Linked DNA regions of Homo sapiens. The protein of the gene in region 2 purifies or fractionates together with the protein of the main gene of each other region. This does not show direct contact. Each region holds a gene or a part of one and is shown on either strand. Other genes may lie near its edges.

Region 1 (3,656 bases), on a different chromosome or scaffold from region 2:
GAGTTTAGGTTCACTTAACTTTCCCTAGAACTGAAGTTGCTGGATCAAATAATATACTCAGTTAAAATTGATACATATTCCAAAATTTTCTACAGAATAGTACATCAATTTACACTTAACCATTAGCATTTAAAAGTCCATTTTTCCCCATGCTTGACAAGAAATAATATGATTTTGACTTTATTTGCACTTATTTGATTACTAATAAGACTAAACTATTTTTACATGCTTATTTTTCTTTTATGACCTATTTGCTTACATTTAGTTTAGGAATTATTAGTGTAATATGAGCAAAAATGCTAGAAAAAAAACTTGTATTAAGAGATTTGAAGGCTGAGCGTGGTGGCTCATGCCTATAATCCCAGCACTTTGGGAGGCCAAGGCAGGAGGATCATGAGGTCAGGGTTCGAGCTCAGCCAGGTGAATATAGTGAAACCCTGTCTCTACTAAAAATAGAAAAATTACTCAGGAGTGGTGGTGGGTGACTGTAATCCCAGCTACTTGGGCGGCTGAGGCAGGAGAATCACTTGAAACAAGAAGGCGGAGGTTGCAGTGAGCCAAAATTGTGCCACTGCATTCCAGCCTGGGCGAAAGAGCAACACTCCATCTCAAAAAAAAAAAAAAAAAAAAAAAAAAAAAGGATATATTATCTCTTCTTATAGGAAGTAAAATCCTTTATTAAACTTCTAAAATCTTACCTCGTCCAAACAGTTGACACGAACATTCTTGCTGGATAATAATGTTCCAGCTTCTTGGACAGTACCTAAAAAAAAAAAAAAGATGAAAAGTAAGGTTATTCGTCACTAGAATAAGAGAAAAATCTAACATCAAGGAAATAAACCTTAAGGAGTTATCTGTAAGAGTACATCTAGTCAGTGTAGGTTGCTAAGAAATGAAACATCCAATCACATACTATTTATTTTACAAAGTAATTGTCCAGTAGAATAGATTTACAGAAACTAAAAATAGCTCCATCTTGTTTTTATTTTCACTGACCTTAAAGTATATTACATTGGCCACATTTTCCTTTTGGCGGTAATACAATAACCACAAAGCATAAGACTTAATACTGAAAAAAAATCTTAAAGGGTATCTAATCCAAATCACCATCTGAAGCTTAAATTCCAGTCAATGTAATACTTGGAATTCAAAATGCAGTCAGTATTTATATAATTTGTCAGCACCACATCTTGTGAATTGATGACATATTTATAATAGAGTGCTTGGTTTGGAAATACTTAGGTGAAACACATCTTCAATGCCTAGTACTACATTACAGTGCTCTATGATCAGTACTCACCACCCTGAAAGTCAACTAATGTAAACCTTAAGGTCACTCCTCTGTAAATTTGGAAAGAAGCTATAATTGGGCCAAAGTTGTCAGGTTTTTCCAGTCTTCTATAAGGCATAATGACAGAAGCATACTTGCAGGAGAGAATGTTGCTATTATCATTAGTACAAGCCAGCCACACATTTTGCCAAGAAATTTCTGGTTTTACTGGGAAGAGAAGAATGAAATTGAATGTGCTGAGGGAGAAAGGCTAAGATAAGCCTCTCCTATAAAAGAACATAAAAGAATAGGTAAGTCTCCCAATCAGGTTATTTCCTCTCTTTAAATTTAGACTTGTAGTGCAAGACTGTGCTAAACTCTGCTAGCCTTCTAGAGTTAAAGGTGAAATGCAAAATAAAGATTAGCATGCTTTTTTCTCTCTGACCCACTTCTTAAGCAAGTCACCTGAGTTCCCCTCACCAACAGAGAAAAAACAGAAACATCTCCTAGATAGAGAAGTAGCTCTGTTGGGAAAATGTCAAGTGAATGATCTACACGTCCCTGGAGTATGATAGCAGCTATTTTTTTTATAAATAATGCATTTTTCTGACCCTGTATTCCATCTGAAAGCAGTTAGTATCACTGGCTGAATCGCTATGCAAGGGCAAAGCTCTTGTGTGTGTGAGCATGCGAGCCAGTTCTACATGAAACCTTATTCGTATCTGTGTCTTCTCATCAGAGACTTTCTCAAAAATCTTTATAGAAGAATAAAACCAGAACAAAAACCCCGCACCCCAGTTTCTCTTGAGGAAGATGCTTCATCCAAATCCCATTCTCTACTGAGAACCAAAGTTATTTTCTTTTTCTATCTGCCCAAGAGATGTTTTTGCAAGAAAGGGAGAATACTATAGTGATTGTAAGCATGTCAAAACCTGCTACATGGGAAGAGTAGAATGGGGATTAAGATCATAAACATTTGGCTCTCATTAGAGAACAGGCTGATAATTCTCTAAGGTGTTTGCCAAATAGCCAACAATCTAAGTTAACATATTCTGTAAGGGAACAATATATTTTAAAGATGATGCATGTATAATGGAAAACAAACTGTTCTCTCCTGCTTAACTCTCACTCAATAGTCTCAATCCTTCACTTCTGACACCAGATATATGGGGTTTCCCCCATAAACACCAAGCAATTCTCCATTGGACACCAATGGGGTATCCTATAATTTAACTCATTTCTAACATTGTTTATCTAAAGTTAGTCAGATCTTACAGGTCAAGGGCTCAGTCCACAAGACCGTCCCCACTTCAGATGCCAATCATAAGCCCCTGTACTTCTGACTGGCTATAAATCAGGGTTCCCATGATCCCCTCCTCAGGTTCCATAATTTGCTAGGACAGCTCACAGAACTCAGGGAAACACTACTTACATTTACCCATCAATTACAAATAATATTACAAAGGACAAAGATGAACAGCCAGATGGAAGAGGGGCAAAGAGCAAGGTATGTGGCACTTGGCACAGAGATTCCATGCTCTTTCCAGGCACTCATTCTTCCAAGAACTTCCACGAGTTCAGCAATCTGGAAGCTCTCTGCAACCTGTAGTTCAGTAATATTTATGCAAGCTTGATTACATAGGTGTGACCTATTATTAAGTCAGTCTTCAGCTCCTCTCCCTTTCCTGAAGATGCGGGGAGGGGTGGAGTTGAAAAATTCAACCTTCTAATCATGGCTTGGACTTTCTCATGACCAGCCCCCATCCTGAAGCTATCCAACAGTCGCCTCATTAGAACAAAAGACATTTCTAACGCCCAGGAAATTCCAAGGGATTAGAAACTCTGTGTCAGGTACCAGGGTCAAAGACCAAATATTAGAACAATAGATGCACCTAGCACCCCATTGTTCAGGAGATTATAAGGGTTTTAGGAGCTCTGTGTTAGGAGCCAGTGGCAGAGACCAAATAGATATTTCTTATTATATCCTACATGTACACGTACCCACAATCACACTAAGGTTAGCCTTTTGAAATGCAGGGGCTGGAATGAGAAAAATAATCTGAAACAGATTGGGCTTCTAGAGGGTAAAAATAGATTTGGAACATGGATGAGCAAAACACTCCAAGAGGAAAAACTGTGATGATTTCCAATTCGGTGTTCACAATGTAATGACATTAGTCGGAAATTATAGAAGGTCCAGAATAGCATGGAAATGTGAAACACATGGCTCACACAGAAGGATTTTTACTTTATGTCATTCCTACTGTCCATAGTAGACTTAAATAATATTTTACAAGTAAGTGTAAAAGATTAATTGCTTTATTCTGGGAAATAAATATGTTAAATCTGATTTAACAAACTGCTGGGGGTGGAAGATAGAGTACTA
Region 2 (3,656 bases):
GATGTGTCAGCATCTTATTGGCCAGAGGCACCGTGCTGTCTCCAGGTGTCTTATGGGCTCTCTAATATGCCTCAAATTAGCTTAAGTTCTCTTTATTACAGTATATGCCACTTAATTATAATGCTTCAAAAGCTCAAGAACCAAATTATCCTCATAACATAAAGACTATGAATGTTATATCTCAATGTTAAAATGTCAAATTTTGCATGAAGTCCAAATTAGAGCTCATCCCAACGGTCACTTAGAAGGATCCTGGGCTAATGTGCCCTGTTGCCTTGTTTCAGCAGGTTACAACCTATGTTTCATTTTTACTTGGGTACAATTCCTTTTCTATAGAAAATAGGTCAGATCTCATATTTTTCCTTAGTTTCTATAAAACTATCAATAGCTCCAATAAATTGACCTCTCTGGGGAGAAAGAAAGCCTGGCTTAGGGTTTGGAACTACATCTTACACTGGTTATCTGAATGTCCTAATATTGATTTGATTAACTCCCAAACCAATATTAAAGTAAAACTCTGTGCCCGAAAGATAGAGGAACAGGGGAAAAAAGGAGTTGGTGCCTGGGATTTTACGGTGGCTGCGACAGGGCGTGTGGAGACATTTGTGGGAAACTTTTCTCTTTTTTTGAGCAGAGTGGATAACCCTTTATTTCACTATAGACAGACTGGATTTATCCTGCTTTTACCTTTAGAATTCAACAGAAAAGTGTAACTTTTTTCTTTTTATTTTTTTTTTTTCTGAGACACAGTTTCACTCTGTCGACCAGGCTAGAGTGTAGTGGCACGATCTCGGCTCACTGTAACCTCTGCCTCCCGCGTTGAAGTGATTCTCATGCCTCAGCCTCCCGAGTAGCTGGGATTACAGGCATATGCCACAACACCCAGCTAATTTTTTTTGTATTTTTAGTAGAGACGTGGTTTTGTTATGTTGGCCAGGCTGGTCTCAAACTCCTGATCTCAAGTGATCCACCCGCCTCAGCCTCCCAAAGTGCTGGGATTACAGGCAGAAAAATGTAATTGTAAGCAACATACCCATTTTAAGACAATTCACTTTTTTTTTTACCACACATTAATATTAAGAAGAGTCTCTTTAGGAAAACAGTTTAACATTCTAAAATGAGTACCAGGTGGTGTTTTCTTTCTCCCTCTCTCAATTCTAACAATAAGACCCCAATGATTCTATTTTTAGAAGCTGAAAGCAATTTAATAGGGCTTTTCAGGGGGAGCTGCTCTTTCAGAAGTAGCCCTTGAAATTACCATAATTGATGATAATTACTCTCAGAAATGAATAAAGAGCAATAAGCTTTAAAAAATCAGATAGAGAGATACCATACCTTAAGGTGCGATTTTGAAAATTATGCTGACCCATGGGTACATCCTATATTGAGAAAAAAGGTTATTAATTGTCAAAACATGTTTCAAGAAGAATGTTGCAATGATAATTAGGTGAAACATATTTCCTCTTTTATCATGGACAGTAACATTTAACTAACAAATAATTAATTACTCATGTGGAGAAAAAGAGCTTAATCCTAAGTGTGAATCAAGTTGTAAACTCAGTTTATCTTTGGAATGTTGCTGTAATCTCTAAACTCTGGATGCTAGAAGCATGAGGATTGTTGTCTGGAGTTTTAAGATTTATAGCCTGTATTATCAGATCTGATTTCAAACAGTGGCCTGCCGGCGACTGATATCAGAGTTACCATCAGTAACCTATGACCATGTGAAAATGGACTTTGGTATCAGACAAATATTAGAAAATGCTGTAGAAAGAACAAAAATATAACCACAAAATCTGTAGTCATCCCCATCACTGAACTGGGGCGTTAAGAAACAGTACCATTGGTTAAGTATGTGAAATCACAAACCATTGGACAAAATGAAGAAATCGGCAAAGGAGCGCTGGTAGTTCCCAAGAGAAATGGAAGAGAGACAGAATTTATAAGTGGAAAAGCCACTGTCAAATATTCAATAATAGGCTTTCAAGGAAAGATTGCCTTTACACATTTATAGTGGGAATGAAAATAAAAGTTGGAACAAAACTGCTCCAAAGAAACTTTGGTTTGCTGCTTTCATTTCCAAGGTTATATTAAGATATGGATTTAGCCTACGGAAAGGAAAGATTTTTTTGAAAAAGTGATTGAGCTCCAAGTTTCATTCCATACAGTAAAGTACTGTATTATTCAAGAGCTCTATCAATGTTGAATCAAGAGTGAATGGAGTTCTGTATAGGGGATTAGATAAAGGAATCACTTTCAGCAATGTCAGTTGTTTGACCCTGGGATTTATGAGTGAAAACTCCAGTGAGGTCTTTCTGAAAGTGAGTGAGACACACAGTTAAGTCAAAGTGGTTTGGGCTTAATGCATCACCAAAAACTTGGGGCTTTCTTAAAGTATGCTATACTGCTACTAAGGCAATCCAAGCCTGGCTTTGAATCTGCAACAGGTGGGACCAGACGGTTAAGAAAATAGAGTTCGTTCAAGAGGTCCTTTGATTTTTATAAACAAATTTCTGAAGTTGAGGCACTCAACAGTTCTGGCCATATCTTGAAGAAGGCATCTTCATCAACACATAGCATCAGATTAAAGTCAGACTGAAACCATTCCTGGATCCTACGCTCAGATAATAAAAGAGACAGTCACTCTTAAGTCTTAAGACAATAAAGGCTGATAAGAAATAAACAACAACAACAATATACCTGGAAAAGTAAGCCTTTTCCCCACAGGAACACATGAAAAACAGCACAGGAAATCACATTCGACTATTTATATATGATTCTTATTCCTTAAAAACCAACCAACCAACCAATTGCTGATGTACAATAAATCCCAATGGGAAATGGAGTTATCAGACACAGCACTAACTAGCAAGACTGAGGCTAACTTATCCAAATTACTGTTTTTCATGAGTGACAGAAACATAGGCTTTCACTGGTTGGATACTGGAGTCCTAGGATGCTGTTTCTCTAACAGATCTAAATGCTGGAAGGCCCCAGCTGCCCCAGGCCTCCCACCTTGGATTGTTCTCTTCTTGATGATTTTATCTAGTCTCATGGCTTCAAATGTCATCTACAACCTGATCACGTTCACATTCATGCCTCCATCTTGGACCTGTCCCGTGAGTTCTAGACTTGCAGATCCAACCGTCTACATCCTCACTGCACTTAACTATAGGTTAGAAGCGGTCCAGCAGAAAAGTCTTAATTTTCCATCTTAAATAATCTGGTTTCCCCCTTGTATTTGTCATCTCAATTAATGGCATCATCATTGTTCCAGCTGTGGGGCCAAAAAGTTTGGATTCATCTCTGTTCCTAATGTTCATGCATATCCAATCCATCACCAAGTCTTATTGGCTCTACTTTCACGTTAGCCCCTGAATTTGCTTCTCGTTGCTTCCACTGCTAAACTCTTAGAATAAGGGGGTATCATTCTCACCGGGGACCCCTGCAGTCTTGCTCCATTATTCCAAAGCCTAAATTATATCATGACCCTCCCTTGCTAAGATTCTCCATGACTTCCAATTGCACACAGAATGCAATATAAAATTTACCGTGGTGCATCTCACCCCATGACCTCCCTTTGCTCATTGTTCATGATGCTCCAGCCACAGCAGCTTCCTCTCTGTCTCCAGGGGACACCACACTCACTTTCATCT
Region 3 (3,656 bases), on a different chromosome or scaffold from region 2:
ATTCCCCCACCAAAATAAAAAAGGACACAAATTATCCATGTCATGCCTCCTCTTCGCTAATGCAACTGAAGGCAAGCTATAGAAAGCATTTTTTTTTCTGTTTGAACAAAGACATGCACTGTAAACTCTTAGCATTTACATTATTTAATTCTCACAACAACCTTATGTGGTAACTGCTTTTAGTATCCCCATTTTACCCATGAAGAAACTGAAGCTCATCAAAGTTAAGGTTACCCTGTAGTAAGAGCTCAGTCAAGGACTGTTGGAGTCCCAAGCCCATGATTTTGGCCACTGTGCTCTACTAGCTCCACTTTGTTGCCTACACTTGTGCCTTTCTACTACCATCTTGGTGAATTAGGTCACTATGTTCTACCCAGTCTTGGCTGAACACCCATGAGCACCCATTCAGAAGACTCAAATAGCTAGATTTTCTTTTTTAAATGTCTACTTCTTTTTAAAAAGTATTCTAAGAGAAGCCAGGCGTGGTGGCTCACACCTGTAATCCCAGCACTTTGGGAGGCCAAGGTGGGCGGATCACTCGAGGCCAGGAGTTTGAGACCAGCCTGGCCAACATGGCAAAACCCCATCTCTACTAAATATACAAAAATTAGCCGGGTGTGATGGCACATGCCTCTAATCTCAGCTGCTTGGGAGGCTGAGGCAGGAGAATTGCTTGAACCCCGGAGGCAGAGGTTGCATTGAGCCGAGATCGCGCCAATGCACTCCAGCCTAGGTGACAGAGTGAGACTCTGTCTCAAAAAATCTAAGAGAATAAGCATAAAAGTCAGTATACCATGGGTGAAATGTAGGACCTATCAGGGTTCCCAAATGTGGGCTGCAACATCAACAATGAGCACCTGAGGTGCTCATTAAAAATACATGTTCCTTGAGCCCACCCTAGACATTTTCAGAATCTCTTCCCTAGGGAGAATGGCCCAGGAATTTATATTTTAAAATAGGTACAGGTGATTCTAACGCAGACCAATTGGAAAACCTAGACGTATACAACTATCGGTTTACTAGAATAATAAATTAGTTACCATTATCTTCCTTCTTCAAAAATAGGAATTAACTGTTAATAAAATTAGAGTGTATACTTAGGCTCCACATTTCAGGTTTTTTTTTTTTTTTTGAGACGGAGTCTCGCTCTGTCACCCAGGCTGGAGTACTACTGGCGCAATCTCGGCTCAGTGCAACCTCTGTCTCCCCGGTTCAAGCGATTCTCCTGCCTCAGCCTCCCGAGTAGCTGGGATTACAGGTGCCCGCCACCAAGTCCAGCTAATTTTTGTATTTTTAGTGGAGACAGGGGTTTCACCATGTTGGCCAGGCTGGTCTCGAACTCCTGACCTCAGGTGATCCACTCCCAAAGTGCTGGGATTACAGGTGTGAGCCACTGCACCCGGCCCATTTTGGGTTTTAACAACTGGTTTCAATGATATCATGGGATTAATTAAAAAAAAAAATTGGCATCATCAGAATTCTCAACCAGTAGATGGCCCTTACCGATTATTAATATTGCTAGGGGAAAAATACTCAAGTTGCCCAAATGGGGAAAAAAGTACTTGCACTTGAAAAGCTGGTTATAAGAGAACAAATGTAATCAGAATCATATCTTCCCACTGATTTTCACTGTAATAATATGTTCTTATGAGTGTAAGTGCAGGCCCTAAAATTTAAGCAAAATTTTATCTAGGAATGTCAAATACATTTGAAGAAAATAAATGATTTTCTGATAAAAGTATAACTGCTAAAATCAATGAATAAAAAACTATACATAAGGGATATAAATTATACAAAGGGATAAATCTATGTAAAAGGTATATGTTCTGTTAACTATTAGAAGCTTTTAATATAGGAATTCTCTTTAAATGCAGTCCATAGTTGTCCATATAAGGCCCTTAACTTTTAAGCTAGATAAAATTGGTCTTGTGTACAACTTCGGAATTCCTTTTTTTCAAGTAACTCAAGGTTACTACAGTGGTTTTTTTCTAGAAATGTCTTTTTTACTGTTTACTTAATATCTTTTGTAAATGCTTTATGTAAATAATAGAAACTTGACTCTTCCATTTTATGCTGGTTTTGTAAAGTTTCCATAAAAGGTTAAAAAGTTCCATAATGCACTGTTTCCTTAAATGATATAGATTCCTGCATTGTACACTTCCATTAAACAAATACAATTTATAAAAATAAGTTTTAAAAAGAATAAATAACAAAATATATGTAACTTCGGAAATGACCGTCAATGAAATAAGATGTCTTTTTAACAAAGTGAAGTCCACAATTTAAACTGTACCTTGTGTGCATGGCCTTTGACATCAAAGAAGATTGTGAGGTTATGGTTTAGGCACTCTGCAACAGCTTCCCTTAGGGTAGGGATCTTTTCATCAGGGAAATCATTCCTGTAAGAGAAGAGAAAATACGTTGTAGGAAAAAAGAGAAACAGATAAACTGTATTGCAACAAACATTTTGCATATGTCTCTCAATCAAAAGGAAAGAGTGTTTTCTCCAACTTCCTTTTTTCGACCATAGCAAAGTCCAAAGATACTTTACTTTAAGATTTTTTTTTTTTTTTTTGAGACGGAGTCTTGCTCTGTTGCCCAGCCTGGAGTGCAGTGGTGCAATCTCAGCTCACTGGAACTACCAACTCCCAGGTTCAAGCAATTCTCCCGCCCCAGCCTCCCAAGTAGCTAGGACTACAGGCGTGTGACACCACGCCTGGCTAATTTTTTGTGTTTTTAGTAGAGGCGGGGTTTCACCATGGTGGCCAGGCTGGTCTTGAACTCCTGACCTCAAGTGATCTACCTGCCTTGGCCTCCCAAAGTGCTAGGATTACAGGTGTGAGCCACTGCGCCTGTCCTACTGTAATAATTTGAACCAAATTATAGATATTCTTTTTTCCACATTTTTATTGCTATACACTTAGACATATTTTTGTGATATGCGCATAATGTATAATGATAAAATCAGGGTATTTAGGATGTCCATCACCCCAAATATTTATCATTTCTTTGTGTTAGGAACATCTAAATCTCCTAGCTATTTTGAAATATACAACAGATTGTTAACTATAATCACTTTACTATGTTATTGAACACTAGAATTTATACCTTCTATCGAACTGTATGTTTGTACTCATTAACCAAATTCTCCTTATTCTCCTCTTCCCCCAACCCCAAACCCTTCCCAGCCTCTGGTAACTATCATTCTCCTCTCTACCTCCATGAGATCAACTTTTTTAGCTCCCATATATGAGTGACAACATGTAATATTTGCCTTTCTGTGCCTGGCTTATCTTATTTCATTTAACATAATACCTTCAGTTCCATCCATGTTGCTGTAAATGACAGGATATCATCCTTTTTTATGGCTAACTACATAGTATTCCATTGAGTATATTTACCACAGTTTATCCATTCATCCACTGATGAACACTTAGGTTGATTCTGTATCTTGGCTATTGTGAATAGTGTTGCAATAAACATGGGGGTGCAAGTATGCCTTTGATACACTAGTTTCCTTTCTTTTGGATAGATACCAACTAGTGGGATTACTGGATTGTATGGTAGTTCTATATTTTTAGTTTTTTGAGAAACCTCCATACTGTTTTCCATAATGGCTGTACTAATTTACATTCCCACCAACAGAATATAAGAGT

Evidence for each region.
Region 1: the proteins of ADCY2 (region 2) and ANKMY2 purify together in Homo sapiens (affinity purification with mass spectrometry; one large-scale study listed by BioGRID and IntAct). This does not show direct contact.
Region 3: the proteins of ADCY2 (region 2) and GDE1 purify together in Homo sapiens (affinity purification with mass spectrometry; one large-scale study listed by BioGRID and IntAct). This does not show direct contact.

The regions. Positions count from the first base shown.
Region 1 is NC_000007.14:16,635,693-16,639,348, forward strand, and holds part of ANKMY2 (ankyrin repeat and MYND domain-containing protein 2), read right to left. Parts: intron 764-3,656; coding exon 699-763; intron 1-698. UniProt on the Homo sapiens protein: May be involved in the trafficking of signaling proteins to the cilia.
Region 2 is NC_000005.10:7,710,579-7,714,234, reverse strand, and holds part of ADCY2 (adenylate cyclase type 2), read right to left. Parts: intron 1,380-3,656; coding exon 1,336-1,379; intron 1-1,335. UniProt on the Homo sapiens protein: Catalyzes the formation of the signaling molecule cAMP in response to G-protein signaling. Down-stream signaling cascades mediate changes in gene expression patterns and lead to increased IL6 production.
Region 3 is NC_000016.10:19,508,546-19,512,201, forward strand, and holds part of GDE1 (glycerophosphodiester phosphodiesterase 1), read right to left. Parts: intron 2,400-3,656; coding exon 2,294-2,399; intron 1-2,293. UniProt on the Homo sapiens protein: Hydrolyzes the phosphodiester bond of glycerophosphodiesters such as glycerophosphoinositol (GroPIns) and glycerophosphoethanolamine (GroPEth), to yield a glycerol phosphate and an alcohol.